2 separate regions of the Homo sapiens genome follow, and region 1 is linked to region 2. The links come from fine-mapping of genetic effects on gene expression. A gene starts in region 2. The other region holds a variant in brackets. All regions are shown on one strand. Distances are from middle to middle.

Region 1 (9,001 bases), 26 kb before region 2:
AACCTTGAACATCTGAAAATAAAACGTCTATGGCCCCCACAGCCTACTGAGGTTGTGTGGCTCTGCAGACATTATAAAACATCAAATTAGATGGAAAATTGCCCGGGGTCCCTGTAAATGAAAATTACTCTTTTTTATAGGGGGAAAAAATGACCCTTATAATCGCAACAAACAATTCTGGGCTCTTCCTTTTATTAGCCGGCTCACATGGCAAGCAGTATTTTCTCATTCCACCGCTTTGGCCCCAACCCATGTTTTTACCACATTTTACTTTGCACATTTTCACAGCATTGTAACATGAAAATGAGGTTCTGCCCTTGTCTTGAGTTCCTGTTGGAAGGGGATGTTTTGCCTCCGCAAAGTTTTAGCCTCCTGGTGAGTGCTGGCTGGATCCAGGCTTGGTGTAGGGTGGTGAAAGAGCACTGGATAGGGGGTTAGATGACTAAGCCTGCTGTGTGACTTCCAGCTGGTTGCTTAACCTCTCTGGGCTGCACTTTCTTCCTCCATGATAGGAGAGGGCTGGATTGGGTTAGGGATGGCACAGTCAATGCCTCTAGGTGCCAGCAAGGTGATGTCCATGTGTGATGGCCCTGTGTAAAACACCCTCGACCTCCATGGGGTCAAGCCAGGGCTTGTGGCCTCCCATTCTTGTCCACATCCCGACATAAAAACTTAGGCATTTTTTTTCTTTTTTCCTGTAGAACCTCACAAGAATATTTTGGAAACAAGACAAAGAGGGAGGATGCTGTTGGCTGTAGCTCAGAGCTTCTCAACACAGGGCTGATTTGGGCCCTGATTTGGCCATGTCTGGGGCGTTTTTGGCTGTCATGACTGGGCCATCATCTGGTGATGCTGCTGACATCCTGTGGGTGGAGGCCGGGTCTGTGGCTAAACACCCCACAGTGCAAAGCCCCACCACCGACAAAGGACTAGGTGGCCCCAGACGCCCCCAGTGCCCAAGGCTGAGAGCCCTGCAGCAGGGCGGGGTTGGGTTGGATTTGGGAGTGGAGACTGGCTGGCCTGGGTGGGTCCCTGCCACTGGCTTGACACCCTGTGATGCAAAGCAGTGCCCGTGGAGCCTTGGATCGCTGGCTGTCAGCCACATGAGTCAGCAGGGCCCGAGCACAGCCTCCATGCTCTCTGGCTGTGATGGGCCTACAGACTGACCTTTGTCAAGGGCTGGAGAACCTCGGACGGCTGCCACCAAGCCCCAGGCAGAGCCTAAAGATTTGTCAGGGTTGGGGGTGGGGGACCAAAGATGCTGGTTAAGTGTTGAGGAGTGAGGAAGCCACAGTGACTAAGCCGCGCCTGGGCGCCGCGGGCTGATCCTAATGAAGCCTAGCCAGTCTCTCCTCCACAGTTTTGACACAGTTAGAAAAACTTTCTCTTGTTTAACTGGAAACAGCCACCCACACTCACCCTTTCACATACCAGTTGCCTTCTTGCAGATCATAGGAAATAAACTGACCTTTTAAAAAATCACAAGTGAAATATAAGGAAACAGAGTGAGCGGAGGCGTTTAGGGGTCTTGAATTCGGCCCACTGGGCAGGAGTGAGCAGGAGTGAGATATGTGAGGCTGTGTGAGTCCATCCTGCCTCCACTCTCTGTGCTCCCGTCTGTGGAGTGGGGCAGTGGACACGGGCTCCTCAAGCCTGCTGGCTCTCTCGGTTTAGGTGTCTCCTGACGGGAGTGGGAATCCGGGCAGGGGCGGGTGGCTGCTTCTCAGGGCCTTCTCACGGCTCCCTTCTCGGGACATTTCATTCACAGATTTGTGAATCTGCAGTTTTGGGAGGATGACTAAAGGTCACTTTGTCCAACCTCAAATGCAGATATGCCCTCTACTTTCTTCCCAAGAGGTAACATTGTCTCTCCTTGGTGGCTCCTGGGATGAGGGGCTTACTCCTATGCCCAGGCCAGCCAATTTCATTCCTGGACACCCCTGGACAGCTCTCGCTTCCGTGCGTGCTGTTTTTTTTTTCCTTTTTTCTTTTTTTTTTTTTTTTGAGACAGACTCCAGCCTCGCTCTGTCGCCCAGGCTGGAGTGCAGTGGTGCCATCACCACTCACTGCAACCTCGTCCTGCAGACTCAAGCGATCCTCCCACCTCAGCTGGGATTACAGGCATGTGTTACCACACCTGACTAATTTTTGTATTTTTAGTAGAGACAGAGTTTTGCCATGCTGCCCAAGCTGGTCTTGAACTCCTGGACGCAAGAGATCCTCCTGCCTCAGCCTCCCAAAGTGCTAGGGTTATGAGTGTGTGCCACTGTGCCTGGCCTCCATGCGTGCTCTTAATTCTACTTTTTGGCACCAACTGGAACAAAGCTAATAATCACCTCCAGCCCCAGATGGAAGCAAGGCACACAGCCACAGAGCTCTTGGGTATTTTTCTTTTCTTTTTTTTTTTTTTTTTTTTTTTTCGAGATGGAGTCTCACTCTGTCGCCCAGGCTGGAGTGCAGTGGAGTGATCTCAGCTCACTGCAAGCTCCACCTCCCGGGTTCACGCCATTCTCCTGCCTCAGCCTCCCGAGTAGCTGGGACTACAGGTGCCCGCCATTACGCACGGCTAATTTTTTGTATATTTAGTAGAGAAGGGGTTTCACCGTGTTAGCCAGGATGGTCTCGATCTCCTGACCTCATGATCCGCCCGCCTCGGCCTCCCAAAGTGCTGGGATTACAGGCTTAAGCCATCGTGCCCGGCCAGCTCTTGGGTATTTTATCTGTTCCAAGTCTTCCTAGTTTTAGGGTGAGCACCCCGAGATTCTTCATCTGACGCTCCTAGTGGCTATTTGGGTGTGTGTTTGGGGGTCCCTCCTCTTGGCACACACATCAGTGTTCACTCTGGGTTGGACTGCACGCTGGGACAGGTGCCGTGAGCTGTATCCAGGGGGCATCACCTCCCATATTCTGGCCGCTCTACTCCTATTGATGTGGTCCAGTACCATCCAAAGCATTTACAACAATATTAGCAAGGCCCTGTTAATTATTTTTAAGTGGGAATAAAACAGGTTTTCTAGGTCTTGAATCATATTTGTGGCTAACAATCCAAAAAACCATGGGGAAATGCCAGAAGAAAAAAGTGATTTAGGGACACAGGAGGTAGATTCCATTCCACTCATCCAGGTCATGGCCATATAAGATCCAGGAATCATGCCTGTCACTCCCCTGCCCTTCTACTGATTGTTCTGGTCCATAGGCTTCCCATCCCCCACCTGCCACCTCCTCTTCAGCCCTCCTGCTGCTGTCCCCCCACAGCCCATGGGCTCTCACCTGGACTAGTGCAGCAGCCTCCTGGGGGGCTCCCTGGATCCTCCAGCCTCCACACAGCAACCAGAGCAACCTTTCTAGAACACAAGAATGCTCACTCACCTCCCTGGTTTCCAACCCTTCCTGCCCAACCCCAACCTACCGCCACGTGGTCTGTACATTAAGCCCTGCCAAGCTTTTTTTTTTGTTTTTTGAGACAGAGTCTCGCTCCCTTGCTAGGCTGGAGTTCAGTGGTGTGATCTCGGCTCACTGCAACCTCCGCCTCCTGAGTTCAAGCGATTGTCCTGCCTCAGCCTCCCGAGTAGCTGGGACTACAGGCACGTGCCACCATGCCCAGCTAATTTTTTGTATTTTTAGTAGAGATGGGGTCTCATCGTGTTAGCCAGGATGGTCTCCATCTCCTGACCTCGTGATCCACCCGCCTCAGCCTCCCAAAGTGCTGGGATTACAGGTGTGAGCCACCGCACCCAGCCCACCCAAGCTTTTCAATGCAGAGCTTGCTTTTAATGCGAAGTCGTGTGCCAAGTGACCACCTGTCTTCCTCCTCCTTTTCTCTCCTGGGTCCCTGGACTCCCACACCCTTGGTCCCAGCCACCCTGGTGACCCTGCTCCCTTTCTATGCACCTTTCTGTGACTTCTACACTTGCTGCTTCCTGGCTTGGACATCGCCTCACCCGGGAAAACTCCTATTTATTTCCAATCCCAGTTTCTATGTCCTCCTGCCCGTCCCCACCCCCCAAGAGCCTTGCTGAGGTTAGGAAACTATGAGAAAGGGATTTCTGTGCCCCACAGCAGTGAGGACACCCGCCCTTGGTCATTTCATATTCGATGTTAGCTCAGAGAAACAATACTAGGAGATAACATTTGCCAACCCCCCCGCCCAAGATTCACTCGCTGATACTAATCCAAACTTGTTCACTCACGTGTTTGTTTAATTAACAAATATTTATCGAGCACCTGCAATGAGTTATGTACTATAATAGATGCTAGGGCACAGTCAGGGATGAAACAGACAGAAGTCCTTGTCTCCATGGAGCTGACATTCTGGTTGGGGGAGGCAGCCATTAGGTGAAATGAATAAGTAAACTGTAGACTGTAATAGCAACAGGTGTGGCGGAGAAGAATGAAGTGGAGATGGAGTTGTCAGGTGAGAGCTGCAATTTGAAATTGAAATTCCAGGGAGGATACACAGAGGGAAAACCTGAAGTTGAGGACGTCAGGTGAGCTGCTACCTGGGGGCAGGGAGCTCCCGGGGAAGGCTTGTACGTTCCAGGACAGGCATCTGGGCGCTGTGTGGCTGCATTGTGGTGGGCTGGGGAGAGGTAGGTCCTGAGACCTGAGAGGTGACAGCCCAAAATCCTGTAGGATCCCAGAGGCCATAGCTGGGACTCAGCTTTTCCTCCAGGTGGGCTGGAAAGCACTGGAGGGTGGTGGACAGAGGATGGCGTGGTCGGATTGCAGCGGGATTCCGTGCGTCCCCTGGCTGCCCTGTGCAGAAGGAAAGGTGCAGCGCAAGGCGGGAGCCGGGAGAACAGGGAGAGAGGCTGGAGGCTTGGTCCAGGCTGGGGGCAGTGGGAACAGCGAGCAGGCGCTGGATCTGGGACATAGTCATGGTGCTCAGCTGCTGCAAGGAAGTCATTTTATTTTTAGCCCAGTTATAACGATGAATGAAGTAGGGATGCAGAAAGGTTAAGGTCACTTTGCTAAAAGGCGCTATGTGTGGCGCCCACCCAACCCATGCACCTATCCCTCTCCAGGAGTGAGTCTCCCATGGGCAGGCATGTGCCCCTCACTGGGCACACTGGGTCCTGACACGCAGTGGGAACTCAGCGCTGTTAAATGTGGATTTCACTGAGCCCCACAGGCAGCCCTTTAGGACCTCGGCCCAAGGTCATTCTGGCCAAAGGCCGCTAGA[G/A]GGCAGCGGTGCTTTTCCCTCTGCATGAAGTTTGGGACAACGTCCGCAGTCAGCCTCGTCTGGTCCCAGGTCACCACTGAGGGCCTTGCAACTTAAGGGACAGGAACACGATCGGTGAGCACCACCAACCCCAACCCCTTGCCCAAGCCAGGGGAAAGGACCCAGGAGGGAGGCTGGACAGGGCCGTGGAGAACCACAGCATGATCCCCTCCTGGGTCCCCTACTTACACCTGGGAAAGCAGGCAGAGAAGGAGGAAGGGGTTTGCCTAGGTTACCCCGGGGACTCGCTGCTAGACCCACACCAGCCCTTCTCCCAGGCGACCTTTCCTGTGACCCCAGGGACTTCCGTCAGCACAGCTGACCCTGGAAGGCTGTGGGGTTGGGTGTGCTGGGTGCACCAGGTTAGATCAGTGTCCTGAGAACGTCCCTCTGGGTGGAGGAGAGGTGGGTGCAGGGGCCCCGAACAGTCGGAGAGGAACCTGGCTGAAGCAGCCTGCTGGCAGGTCCTGGCCTACGTTTTATGCCCAGACTGGAGGGCAATAATTGTGAAAGGCAAACAATGTTAAGTTTCTCAGCTTCAGTTATTGGTGGCATTAACGAGCATAGATCGATTTTTAAGAATCTACATACCACTGCAACTTGACCTTGGAGAATCGTTAATCACTTTAGAAATGCACATAGAGAGGTCACACTGATGCTTTGTGTAAAAAATCCCCGCCTAAATAGTTGCTAGCAGAGAACCTCATTTGCAAGCGTAAATCTGTTTATAATTAATCACGTTTGGCAAGGCTCCCCCTCCACAGCCTGGCTGGCTTCGGGGCCTCTGGCTTTTGCTGTCGATGCTCATGCTCGATGTATCCAGGCCAAGCTTTCACTCTTCCCCTGAGCTATACCACATTTTCCCTGACCCTTTTCCTGAGAGGCAATGCCTGTCCAGGCCCTGCTCAGGCTCAATCTGTCTGCCGCCAGCCTTGCCTCCCTGCTTCCCGGGGGCACCCTCCTGAGGACAGTTGCTACCATCGGTGGTGAACCATTGGTGTGTGCCAGCCTCTTCTCCAAATGTTCTCCACGAAATAACTTACATGGCTCTTCACGCAACTCTATTCAGTAGGTATTATTATGAACCCCATTTTACAGATGTGGAAACTGAAGCCAAGAGATGCTTCGAGGAGTCAGCGTCAGGATTTAAACCCAGACTTCTGGTTCAATTTAAACCCAGTTTTGTCCTAATGCTCTCCCTCCCCTTGCTCTCCACCCACTGACAGGCCCCAGGCCCCGGTGTGTGATGTTCCCCTCCCTGTGTCCATGTGTTCTCATTGTTCAACTCCCACTTATGAGTGAGAACATGTGGTGTTCGGTTTTCTGTTCCAGTGTTAGTTTGCTGAGGATGATGGCTTCCAGCTTCATCCATGTCCCTGCAAAGGACATGATCTCATTCTTTTTTATGTCTGCCTAGTATTTCATGGTGTATATGTGCCACATTTTCTTTATCCAGTCTATTATTGATGGGCATTTGGGTTGGTTCCAAGTCTTCGCTATTGAAAATAGTACTGCAATAAACATACGTGTGCATGTGTCTTTATAGTAGAATGATTTATAATCCTTTGGGTATATATCAAGTAATGGGATTGCCGGGCCAAATGGTATTTCTGGTTCTAGATCCTTGAGGAACCACCACACTGTCTTCCACAATGGTTGAACTAGTTTACACTCCCACAAGCAGTGTAAAAGTGTTCCTATTTCTCCACAGCCTCAACAGCATTTATTGTTTCCTGACTTTTTAATAATCGCCATTCTGACTGGCTTGAGATGGTATCTCATTGTGGTTTTGATTTGCATTTCTCAGTGATGATGAGCTTTTCTTCACATTTTTCTTGGTCACATAAATGTCTTCTTTTGAGAAGTGCCTGCTCATATCCTTTGCCCACATTTTGAATTTTTTTTTTCTTGTGAATTTGTTTAAGTTCCTTGTAGACTCTGGATATTAGACCTTTGTCAGATGGGTAGATTGCAAACTTTTTCTCCCATTCTGCAGGTTGCCTCTTCACTATGATGCTAGTTTCTGTTGCTGTCCAGAAGCTCTTTAGTTTAATTAGATCCCATTTGTCAATTTTGGCTTTTGTTGCAATTGCTTTTGGTGTTTTAGTCATGAAGTCTTTGCCGATGTCTATGTCCTGAATGGTATTGCCTAGGTTTTCTTCAAGGCTTTTATGATTTTTAGTTTTACATTTAAGTCCTTAACCCATCTCAAGTTAATTTTTGTATAGGGTGTAAGGAAGGTGTCCAGTTTCAGTTTTCTGCATATGGCTAGCCAGTTTTCCCAGCACCATTTATTAAATAGGGACTCCTTTCCCCATTGCTTGTTTTAGTCAGGTTTGTTGAAGATCAGATGCTTGTAGGTGTGAGGTGTTATTTCTGAGGTATCTATTCTGTTTCATTTGTCTATATGACTGTTTTGGTACCAATACCATGCTACTTTGGTTACTGTAGCCTTGTAGTATAGTTTGAAGTCAGGTAGTGTGATGCCTCCAGCTTTGTTCTTTTTGCTTAGGATTGTCTTGGCTATATGGGCTCTTTTTGGGTTCCATATGAAATTTAAAGTAGGTTTTTCTAATTCTGTGAAGAAAGTCGATAGCTTGATGGGAATAGCATTGAATCTATAAGTTACTTTGGGCAGTATGGCCATTTTCATGATATTGATTCTTCCTATCCACAAGCATGGAATTTTTTTTCCATTTGTTTGTGTCCTCTCATTTCCTTGAGCAGTGGTTTGTAGTTTTCCTTGAAGAGGTCCTTCACATTCCTTGTAAGTTGTATTCCTAGATATTTTATTCTCTTTGTAGCAATTGTGAATGGGAGTTCACTCATGATTTGGCTCTCTGTTTGTCTATTATTGGTATATAGGAATGCTTGTGATTTTTGCACATTGATTTTGTATCCTGAGACTTTGCCGAAGTTGCTTATCAGCTTAAGCCGTTTTGGGGCAGAGACAATGGGGTTTTCTAAATACAGAATCATGCCATCTGCAAACAGAAACGATTTGACTTCCCCTCTTCCTATTTGAATACCCTTTATTTCTTTCTCTTGCCTGATTGCCCTGGCCAGAACTTCCAATACTATGTTGAATAGGAGTGGCGAGAGAAGGCATCCTTACGCCAGTTTTCAAAGGGAATGCTTCCAGCTTTGGCCTATTCAGTATGATATTGGCTATGGGTTTGTCATAAATAGCTCTTATTATTTTGAGATATGCTCCATCAATGCCTAGTATATTGAGAGTTTTTAAAATGAAGGAATGTTGAATTTTATCGAAGGCCTTTTCTGCATCTGCTGAGATAATCATGTGGTTTTTGTCATTGGTTCTGTTTATCTGATGGATTACATTTATTGATTTGCATATGTTGAACCAGCCTTGCATCCCAGGGATGAAGCCAACTTGATTGTAGTGGATAAGCTTTTTGATGTACTGCTGGATTTGGTTTGCCAGTATTTTATTGAGGATTTTTGCATCAATTTTCATCGGGGATATTGGCCTGAAGTTTTCTTTTTTTGTTGTGTCTCTCCCCAGTTTTGGTATCAGGATGATGCTGGCCTCATAAAATGAGTTAGGGAGGAGTCCCTCTTTTTCAATTGTTTGGAATAGTTTCAGAAGGAATGGTACCAGCTCCTCTTTGTACCTCTGGTAGAATTTGGCTGTGAATCCGTCTGGTTCTGGGCTTTTTTGTGTTGGTAGGCTATTAATTACTACCTCAGTTTCAGAACTTGTTATTGGTCTATTCATGGATTCAACTTCTCCTGGTTTAGTCTTGGGAGGGTGTATGT
Region 2 (9,001 bases):
GTGATTTGAATGTGGTCCCAAAAGTTTATGTGTTGGAAACTTAATCCCTCTGCCTTTGTAGGTGAATTAATGTAGGCTTTGACTTAATGAATGGATTAATGAGGGCTCTGCCCTTATGAATGGATTAACGTCACTACCTTGGGAGAGGGTTGCTTATTGCAGGGGTGGCTTTGTTAAAAAAGTGAACTCTCTCTGGCTCTTACCCTCTTGCTGAGTGATGACCTCTGCCATGGTATGATGCAGCAAGAAGGCCCTCACCAGATGCCAGCACCATGCTCTTAGACTACCCCCCAGCCTCCTCCATAAGCTAAACAAACATCTTTTTTTAAAAAATAACTGACCCAGTCTGTGGTGTTATGTTATAGCAGCAGAAACAGACTAAGACAGGCACTCCCACTTGGGAAGCAGGGAGATACAGACCCAAGCTCAGGGCTCTCTGATGCTGAAGTCTGTGCCCTGCAATCACATGCCTCTACTTTCCACATTTTAACTATTGCTGATTTTCTGTCCTTTTACCCTCTCCTACCGGAATCCTCTTATCAGAGCACACCTGAACCTCCTCCTGCAGAGTCTCCTCTACCCTGCCTCACTTGGCTCCTGGCAGAGTCTATCTATGTGGCTGGGGTGTGGTCCTGGGGTGTAGCCCCTGCATCAATGCGCAGCTCATGGAGACAAAGGGCCTTGTCCTGAACCCCATCACCCAACAAGGCAACCATGGTTGAGAAAGGGCTTTGTGAACTGAAAGCATCTGCGAAACATCTCTGCTCCTCTTCCTTGTCACCATCTCCTCCCAACTCTCCTCTTTGAAAAGCTCAGAAAGTCTTGGCTGATAGCAAGTAGAAAATAGACTTTCAATGGCATCCACTTACTCTCCTGCAGAACGAGTTCATGATGGTGTACAGCTTCCGTGCTTTGTCCTTCAAGGAATCTACCTGGGCCACTTTCCAACACGGGGGCGAGGCCACAAAGTCCCGCAGCTTGTCCAGCACACAGTAATTCTGGGAGTGGGCAATGGGGAGGGGGCTTGTGGGAGAAGTCAGTAGCAAGAGGAACAGGGACTGAGCTGCATAAGATCTCTCCCTGACTCTGTGCCACACAGCCAGCAGCAGAGGTTCAGACCTGAGTCCCTCAGCCCAAGACCTCCCTCCCCCAGGGAGAACCCTCTTACGTGTATGTCCAGGTACAGCCTGGGCAGGTATCTCACACATGGCTCCTGTGGAAAGGGATAAGGGGTTCTGGGATGCCCACAGGGGCATACCTGGTCACAAAAGTCTCCCTAGTGGCCCTCTCAACAGCCAGACCAGCCCAGATCCCTGGGGCCCTCCCTGATGCTACGACATGCACAGTACTTTCTTGTGTCATACGTCACACTCCTCCAGAAATGGGCGACTGCGCTTCCGGAATTAGACTTTTAGAATACAACTTTTATATCATTTGCTATGAACCAGGGAGCTGTTTTATATGCATACCCATTCAGAAATATACATACACGTATATACATAAAAGCAGTCCTATAACTGTAATATAGAAATAGTGATATATAATACAGTAATACAAGTATACATACAGAGTATATATGTACATCTATAAAACAGTTCTATAACTATTTAGTTATATAACAGTTGTATAAGTTAGTTATATAGTAACTTATATAATAATATACTTATATAATAACTTATATAAGTATATTAGCTATATAACAGTTGTATAACTGCATGTAATTATAGACATTATATATACTTACATAAGTACGATATATGTAATAATACCTATTGTTCTATAGGCATTCTATAGCTAATATGTAGTTGTATATAGTGTATAATATAGTAATATCGAAGTGCATAAATTTGCATACTTTTATATTTCTATATTGGGCTTCCGTTTTTGCGCAGGGCTGAAGGGCAAAAGCCCTCGTGCTCTGCCCTCTCAGTAATCCCCGTGTGACCATGGGCAAGTGCCTTCCTTCAGTCCTCAGTTGTGAAATTAGAGATTTAGAATGCATAATCTTTCCACTTTCTTCCCGCTCTGTGGTTCAGAGCCTCTGAACTTTTTAAACCTTTTAAAATCAGATTCCTTTAAAAGATGATTGCTGTCTATATTCGATAACAAGAAACTTGTGGGTAAATTGTGGTGAAACTGTACAACAAAATGTTAAAACAAAAATGAACTTATTTGATAGTGTCATTAAAAAGTAAGTTGCAAAACTGCTTGTGCTGTTTGACCCAAATTTTGTTTACACACACACACACACACAACACACACGTATTTGAATACCTATATGTAGACAGAAAGCTGAAATATGATCCTCCACAATGCTACGGCAGCAGCTACCTCTAGGTGGTAGAATTACAAGCAAGATTTTTTTTCTTCTTTGTACTTTATTTTCCAACTGTTCTACAAAGTACAATACTTTTATAATTAGGGAAAAAATACATGTTATTTAACTTTTAAAAAGAAAATACCAAGAAGGTGTTAGCTAGGCTTTTGTAAACCCCAACATCTGAGAAACATTATGTTTTGTTTGAAGCATTTGCAAGTGATTAAAAGACACTTTGAAACTTTACAAAAGCTTTTAATGAAGTTTAATGCATTTTGTTTCGACGGAGAAGCAGGCAGAGGCCTGGGTTCTAGTCCCCAAAAGCCCTCCCGGGTCTTCCCCTCTCTGAGTCCCCAGATCTGCCTCTGAAGATCGTGCTCACATCAGCTGGCATCTGTTGAGTACTTGTTCCTGTAGGCTTGGCTCTGTGAGCCCTGCCTGTGTTCACACCTGCCTTTGATCGTCAAAGCCACTCTAAAGGGAGGGGTGCTACTGTCATCCCATTTTACAGACAAGAAAACTGAAAGGCAGAGGCTGAGAAATTTGCCCGGGTCCCTCAGCAGATGAGGGGCGGAGGCCAGTTCTGTGAGCCACCTCTTAGGGCACACTCCTCACTAGGCTAACAAAAGCAATACACAAGCTTCATTCCTCCGTCCTCCTTAACTCTGATGGGGAGCTGTTTTTCTCCCCATCCTCCCACTCCTTTTTTTTTCTTTTTTCTTTTTTTTTTTTTTTTTTTTTTTTACATTTTACAACAGATCCTTTGATATTTGCTAGTAAGTCACAAAAATTGTGTTGTCTTTACTTTTTCTTGTGTTTTGAAGAAAGCAAACCATTGGTATCATATTTAAAAGGAGATGAATAAAACACAAATACTCCTGAGATTTACATTTACTAGAAAAGAAAAATATCCTTTTCTCTCTCTCTCTCTTTTTTTTTTCGTGTAAAGGCAAGGGTTTAAGAACTGGGTCTGCCATGCACCCCTGTCCTGAGCGGGCGGGGGACTCACCGAGGGCTCCGAGACCTGCAGGAGGTTGAAGTCGCGGGTGATCTCCTGGCTCAGGGCCCGCATGCGGGAGTAGCAGGTCGGGGGAGTGGGCCGCGCGGCGGGGGCTCCCGCCAGGAGCAGCAGCAGCACGGGCAGAGGCCCAGGCGTCCTCATGGTGCCAGGCGCTGGTGCAGCCTCGCCGACCGCCCCTTTATGCAGGCTGGGGGTGGTCCAGGGCGGCTCCACGCCTCCACTTCCTGTGGGGCCAGCGCAGGCTGCGGTCCATCCAGGGTGGCAGAGAGGAAGCCAGCACGCCCACCGGGCAGGGTCGGGACAGGAATCCTCTCAGACACGAAAGCCCCAGGTTAAGAGGAGGGGCTGCCTGGAGGAGGGGGTGACAGAGGGTGGCTTTGCCTCCCCCACACTTTCAGCAAGAAATTTCTTTCTGCACAGGGACTTTTCCTGAAAAGGCAGGAACAGCAGATGGAGAGGGGTGGGGGATAAGAGGAGGACAGAGATGGAAGGAGGGGAGGGTCAGAGGAGAGGAGTGGGCAGTCAGGCCTGGGTTTGGATGGCACGGTTTGTCAAAATGGATATAGTGCCAGGAGGGAAAGGGACTAGCAGGGGATGACTGAGCATCCCTCCCTCCAGGCAGCCCGCAGTGGAGCAGGGATGCAGAGCTGCGGTCAGGCCACCGGTGTCCTCGTCCATCAATCGCTAACCAGGTAGGTGAGCCTTGGGCCAGGGCCCCCAGCCTCTCAGAAGCCGTGTGTGTCTCTCGGTCCGGAGGATGGGCTCACTGAGCGGCCGTATGTGTGGGGAGTGTGAGTACCCCCACCCTCTTCTACCTCAAGCTCCCAGCACAGGCCCCGAGGGAGAGCAGACCCTCAGGAAGGGTTAGTTTTCAAGAAGTGCATCTCCCTCAGGGCTAACTTCCCAAGACAGTGGCAGGTAAAGGTCTAGGCTCTCCACTTAGACGCCGTGGGTGCAAAGCAGGGTCACCGCCTTCTGGCTTTGACCTTGGGCAAGTTTCTTCAGTGTTTCCTCCATCTCCTTATCTGTGAGATGAGGCTGGTGAGAGTGGCTCACTCAAAAGGCCATAGTGAGGAATCAACAGGATATAGCATGACTGAGCAAGCCTCATGCCAGGCCCATTGTGTGTTTCCAAGTGATCGGAGCTAATAGCACTGTCTCTGTTAAATCCAGCAATTGTCTCTGTGAGGTAGGTGCCACAGAAAAGAGTCCCATTTTCCAGGTGGGAAAACTGAGGCTCAAGAGTTCCAGCAACTTGCTGGAGGTCACAAAGCTGGAGGCACATGGGTTGGGATGAGACTTCAGGCCCTGTCCTCCTGCCATTCTTCCATCCCACAGGGCAGGATGGGTGAGGAGCAGGACTCTTGCAGGCAGAGATGAGTTGGGGTCCTCAGGCTGCCCAAGATCAGGCAACAAGCAAGAAGGAACTGTCAAAAGGGAGAAGATTCTTCCTTAACACTGAACATGACTTACATACCAGCAGCCACCAGGCCAGCTGCCATTGGGAACGCTATGACCCTCACAGCCAGCCAATGAAGTGAATGGGGTTATTCCCAATTCCCAGGCGAGGAAACTGAGGGCCTCGGGGGATGTGAAGCTGGGAAGAGCAGTGGAGCCCTGGAGCTATGTCTGGACTTTCCTGCCTCCAAAGCTTCCTCCAACAAAGGAGGAAAGGGGAGCATCCTGGGCAAGCTCCACATTCCCAGAACAAAACAACCAAAGATGCAGCCCACAGGGATGGGTGAACCAGAGCATGGCATCCTGGACACAGGGCTGGACTGAGGATCAACCACAGGGATGAAGCCCGGCTCCAGCTTGTCCCCACTGTATTTGCCAGGAGAAATCCCTTCTCGACCTGGCCTCCATTCCCTGTCTGTAAACAGGATAGCATCACGCTGGGCGATGTCTGAGGTTCCTTCCAGCCCCAGTGTTTTATTTATCTAGTTTCTGGTGGTAAAAGCCCTGGGCAGGGACTGTAAGCTGTGCCTTCCTGTTTTGTAGGTGAGAATGTGTTCTCTAAACACCTTTAGCAAGATGACATAGGGACCGCGGCCTTCGGGCAGAACTGTGTGTGCTTGGAGGTGGCAAGTGGAGGCACAGATGTGTTTTCTTCTGGGTGAAGGAGTCTCCACACTCCCTCCATGATAGTGCCTGGGGCATGGGCCTCCCTGGCAGAATAGCTGGCCCCAGCTGGGGACTCTAGGTCTGCTTTAAAATGCTCTAGGGCTTCTGGATGTGCTCAAGGAATGGGCTTAAATTCAGAGCAGGGAAGAAAAACAAGCCCATGGACCAAACAAGTCCTGCACCATTAGATCAAGGAGACATTGCTGTGCTGGAAAACAGGAGTCATTTGTGAGATAAATGTACTGCTGGGAGACTTGACCTTGTTCCACCCGCAATACCGTGTGTGGTTATTCATGGGACTTCTTGGGTAAATCAGCTGAGCTCAGAGCTGCAAAGAGGCTTATAGGCCTTCCCATTGAGCATGAGAATGAATGAGTAAGTGGCTGTAGCCATAAGCTGTCACTGGTACCAACTGAGATATGGTGGATGCTGGGCCCCTGAGGAGTCACAGTCAGTGGGGAGACAAGGAATGAGGCTGTTGTGCACTGGGCCAGGTGCAAGAGAATCGCCACCTCTCACTCTACCAAGCCAGGAGTGGGATGAATGGGAAGAACACCAGAGGAGAGGGTGCCTCGTGCTGATTCCCAGGGCAGGTGGAGACAAGGAGAAACAGCCTGTGCCGAGCCCAACACACACAAGCTTGCCTGCCGAGCCCAATGCATGCCAGTGTGCATCCGGGAATTCTATCTGCTTTCTGGCCCTCTCCAGGGTTCCTCCGCATCCTATGCATGATACATTGACTTGCCTCCTGGCATCTGTCTCCTTTAATGACCATGCCCTTCTCTAGGAGAGAAAGACAGTCTTTCTCATCTGTTTCTCGGCACCCAGCACGCAGCCAGGTAGAGCGGATGACCAGTAAGGTGTGGCTGAATGGACTTGGTGACTACTCGTGTTACTCAGAGATTAAGGCACAAGCCCACTAAGAAACCTACGCAGGACAGCCTGACGTGGCTCCCCACCAGGGGCTCCCTATGAGACGCCGCACTGGATACAGGCTGGTGGACCCCCGCACGTGTGTTCTGTTCTCAAATGTCTCCTTCACCACGAATCACCTGCATCCTCCCACCAGCTCTTTCTCTGCCCCCTTCTGAGGCTCCTTCAGCAGTTGGCTGCTCCGAATATTAAAAATCCAGGCAGGAATTTGCCCACAAATCAGGTAAGCCCTTGTCTCCGCCAAAAGGTCTCTTCTGGTTTTCTTAATGTCTTACATCGGGCACGGACCCCATCATGCAGGAGAGCTGAAGAGTCAGAGTTAACGAGCAGGTGAACATCTCTGAGGTAGATATCGGCCATTGCCTTTGGATGGGTTCTTCATTTGCCAGATGCATGTCTATCTATTTATCGAGAGTCTGTTGTGTGCCAGGCACTGAGATGGGTGAAAAGACAGTGAATGACAGAGTTGCTATCCTCTCGGAGGAGATTGATGAGGGCAGCTGACACTCTGGGTGAGTGGTGTGATGGCAGAAATCCTAGTGTTTCTGGAGCCCCTAACCCATCACTGGCAGCTGCTCCCTATCAGGTGAGAGCTGAGAGGTGACGAATGCAGTGGGGAAGCGGGGTAGGTATGAAGGCATGTGTGTGTGTGTGTGTGTATATGTGTGTGTTTGTGTGTGTCTCTGTGAAAGACAGAGAGTGAGGGAGATTGTAAGATATTGTGCTGCTGGCTTTGAAGATGGGAGAAGAGGCCACAAGCCAAGGAATTCAGGAGGCCTCTAGAATGCAAAGAAAGATTCCTGCCTAGGGCCTCCAAAACGGGCCCAGTTAGACCCCTTCTGAGCCCGGAATTGTAAGATCATAAATTCGTGATGCTTGGAGTCCCTCGGTTTGTGGTGATTTGTTACAGCAGCCACAGGAAACAAGCATACTGTCTCTCTGGGGTTTGGTAGAATAACAGAAATTAATGTGGGAACCTAGAAATTATCCAGATCTACCTGCCTGCTGCTTATCCTTCCTTTACAGTCTCCCTGTCAAGTGCTTGTCCAGAGTCTGCTTGCATACGTCCCTGGACAGGGAGCTCTTTGCCTCTTACAACTTCCTTCCAGTCTCTGGGCAGCTCCAAATTCTTCCCAGGGTGGAGATGAGATGCGATGACACCCTGGTGCAGGCCTTCAAATCCTGTACCTTCTTATGCAGAACGGAGGTGTGGCGATGTTAAGACCATTCTCATTCTTCAATGTCTCTACCTCCACTCCTCCCTGCCCCTCAAAACAGAGTCAACTCTCTTTTGGAGCTACCATCCCCACTTCGTGAACCCTTTTAATGAGAAGTGGCCTCAAGACCCTTCAATTACATCACGATTAACGCCTCTCTGTCTAGAGCCCTATCTCCTCCCGGTGGCCATTTCTAAAGCAGAAATTCAATCTTGCTCCTCCTTGTTTCAAAGTCTCCCTGGCTCCCAGACACAAACCCTGCTGTGTGTCCATGAGTCTTACACTATGTGGGACCCAGACTGGAACACAACCCTTCCTGGGAGATCTGGTCAGAATGAGGCTATCAGTTTTGAGCCTTTCCTATGTCAGTTAGGACTGTAGGCTGTGTGTTACAGAAAATTCAGCATGAGACACCAAAGTCTGGGTTTTCTGGAAAGTGCAATTTGAAAATATAGAGGGAATCTGGAGCTCAGGAATGGTTTGATCCAGGAACTCAATGAAGTCACTAAGGAATTATCTCTTTCTCTGTTCTATATTGTGATAGTGTTTTCATGTGTCATCTTGACTAGGCTACCATCCTCAGTTATTCTAACACTAATCCAGATGTTACTGTGATGGTATTTGTAGATGTAATTAGAGTCCTTATGCAATAAGCTCTATGTAAGGGAGATGATTTTAGATACTCTGGGTAGGCCTGATTTACTCAGTTGGAAGGTCTTAAGAGCACAGCCAAGGCTTCCCTGAGGAAGAAAGAGTTCTGCCTGTGGAGTAGCTTTGTCTGTTCTGGTGATTCCAGTTTGCACTTCCTGAAAGCCTACCCTACTACAATTTTGTACTTGGCCAATGTCCACAATCATGCAAGCCAATTCCTTGTACTAAATCTCTTAATATCTCTCTGCCACTGGTCATGCTTCTTGGGTTGAGCTCTAACTGACACATATACCATTAGCTCCATCCCAAAGCCAGGCCCTGTCCTGAGAAGTAGGGTCTCCCTTGTGACCACTGAAGAAAGTCCTGAGCTTTGTGCTGGAAGCGGACCCTGCCTATGCCCTGTCCAAGCCTCCTCAGCCCTGACATTTAAGGGCAGGTGGGCTAGGCTTCACCTGCCAGCACCACCCTCTGCGACAGGCCTTCCTCTGGCCATAGGTGCCTGTTCTGCCCACGTTAGAGCAAGCCAGAGTATTGGGGACTCTTAATGCCTCCCAGAAGTAGCCCTCAACCGATGATTCATGAAAGTTGGGAAGAGTCTGGCTTCTGGTTAAAAATCTGTATGTCATCCATGGGCAGTTACAACGGCTTTACACAACAGGCCCCCAAGGGGATCGGGGGAGCTGCACCCCCAACCCCAGGCTTGGGACACAGCCAGAGCTTTGCATGCAATCTCTGAAG

The links.
Region 1: its variant is fine-mapped to the expression of CYTL1 in whole blood (TOPMed, PIP 0.97).

The regions. Positions count from the first base shown.
Region 1 is chr4:4,990,116-4,999,116 of GRCh38, forward strand. No RefSeq gene overlaps it. Among named protein-coding and RNA genes, the nearest start is that of CYTL1, 25 kb to the right of the region's middle. RefSeq lists an enhancer at 5,215-5,364. The variant G/A (reference allele first, on the strand shown) is at 5,183.
Region 2 is chr4:5,015,967-5,024,967 of GRCh38, forward strand. CYTL1 (cytokine like 1) reads right to left here and starts at 3,492. Exons shown (of 4, transcript NM_018659.3): 1 at 3,327-3,492; 2 at 1,169-1,213; 3 at 870-998. The coding sequence starts at 3,479. It also overlaps a transcript of STK32B not described here.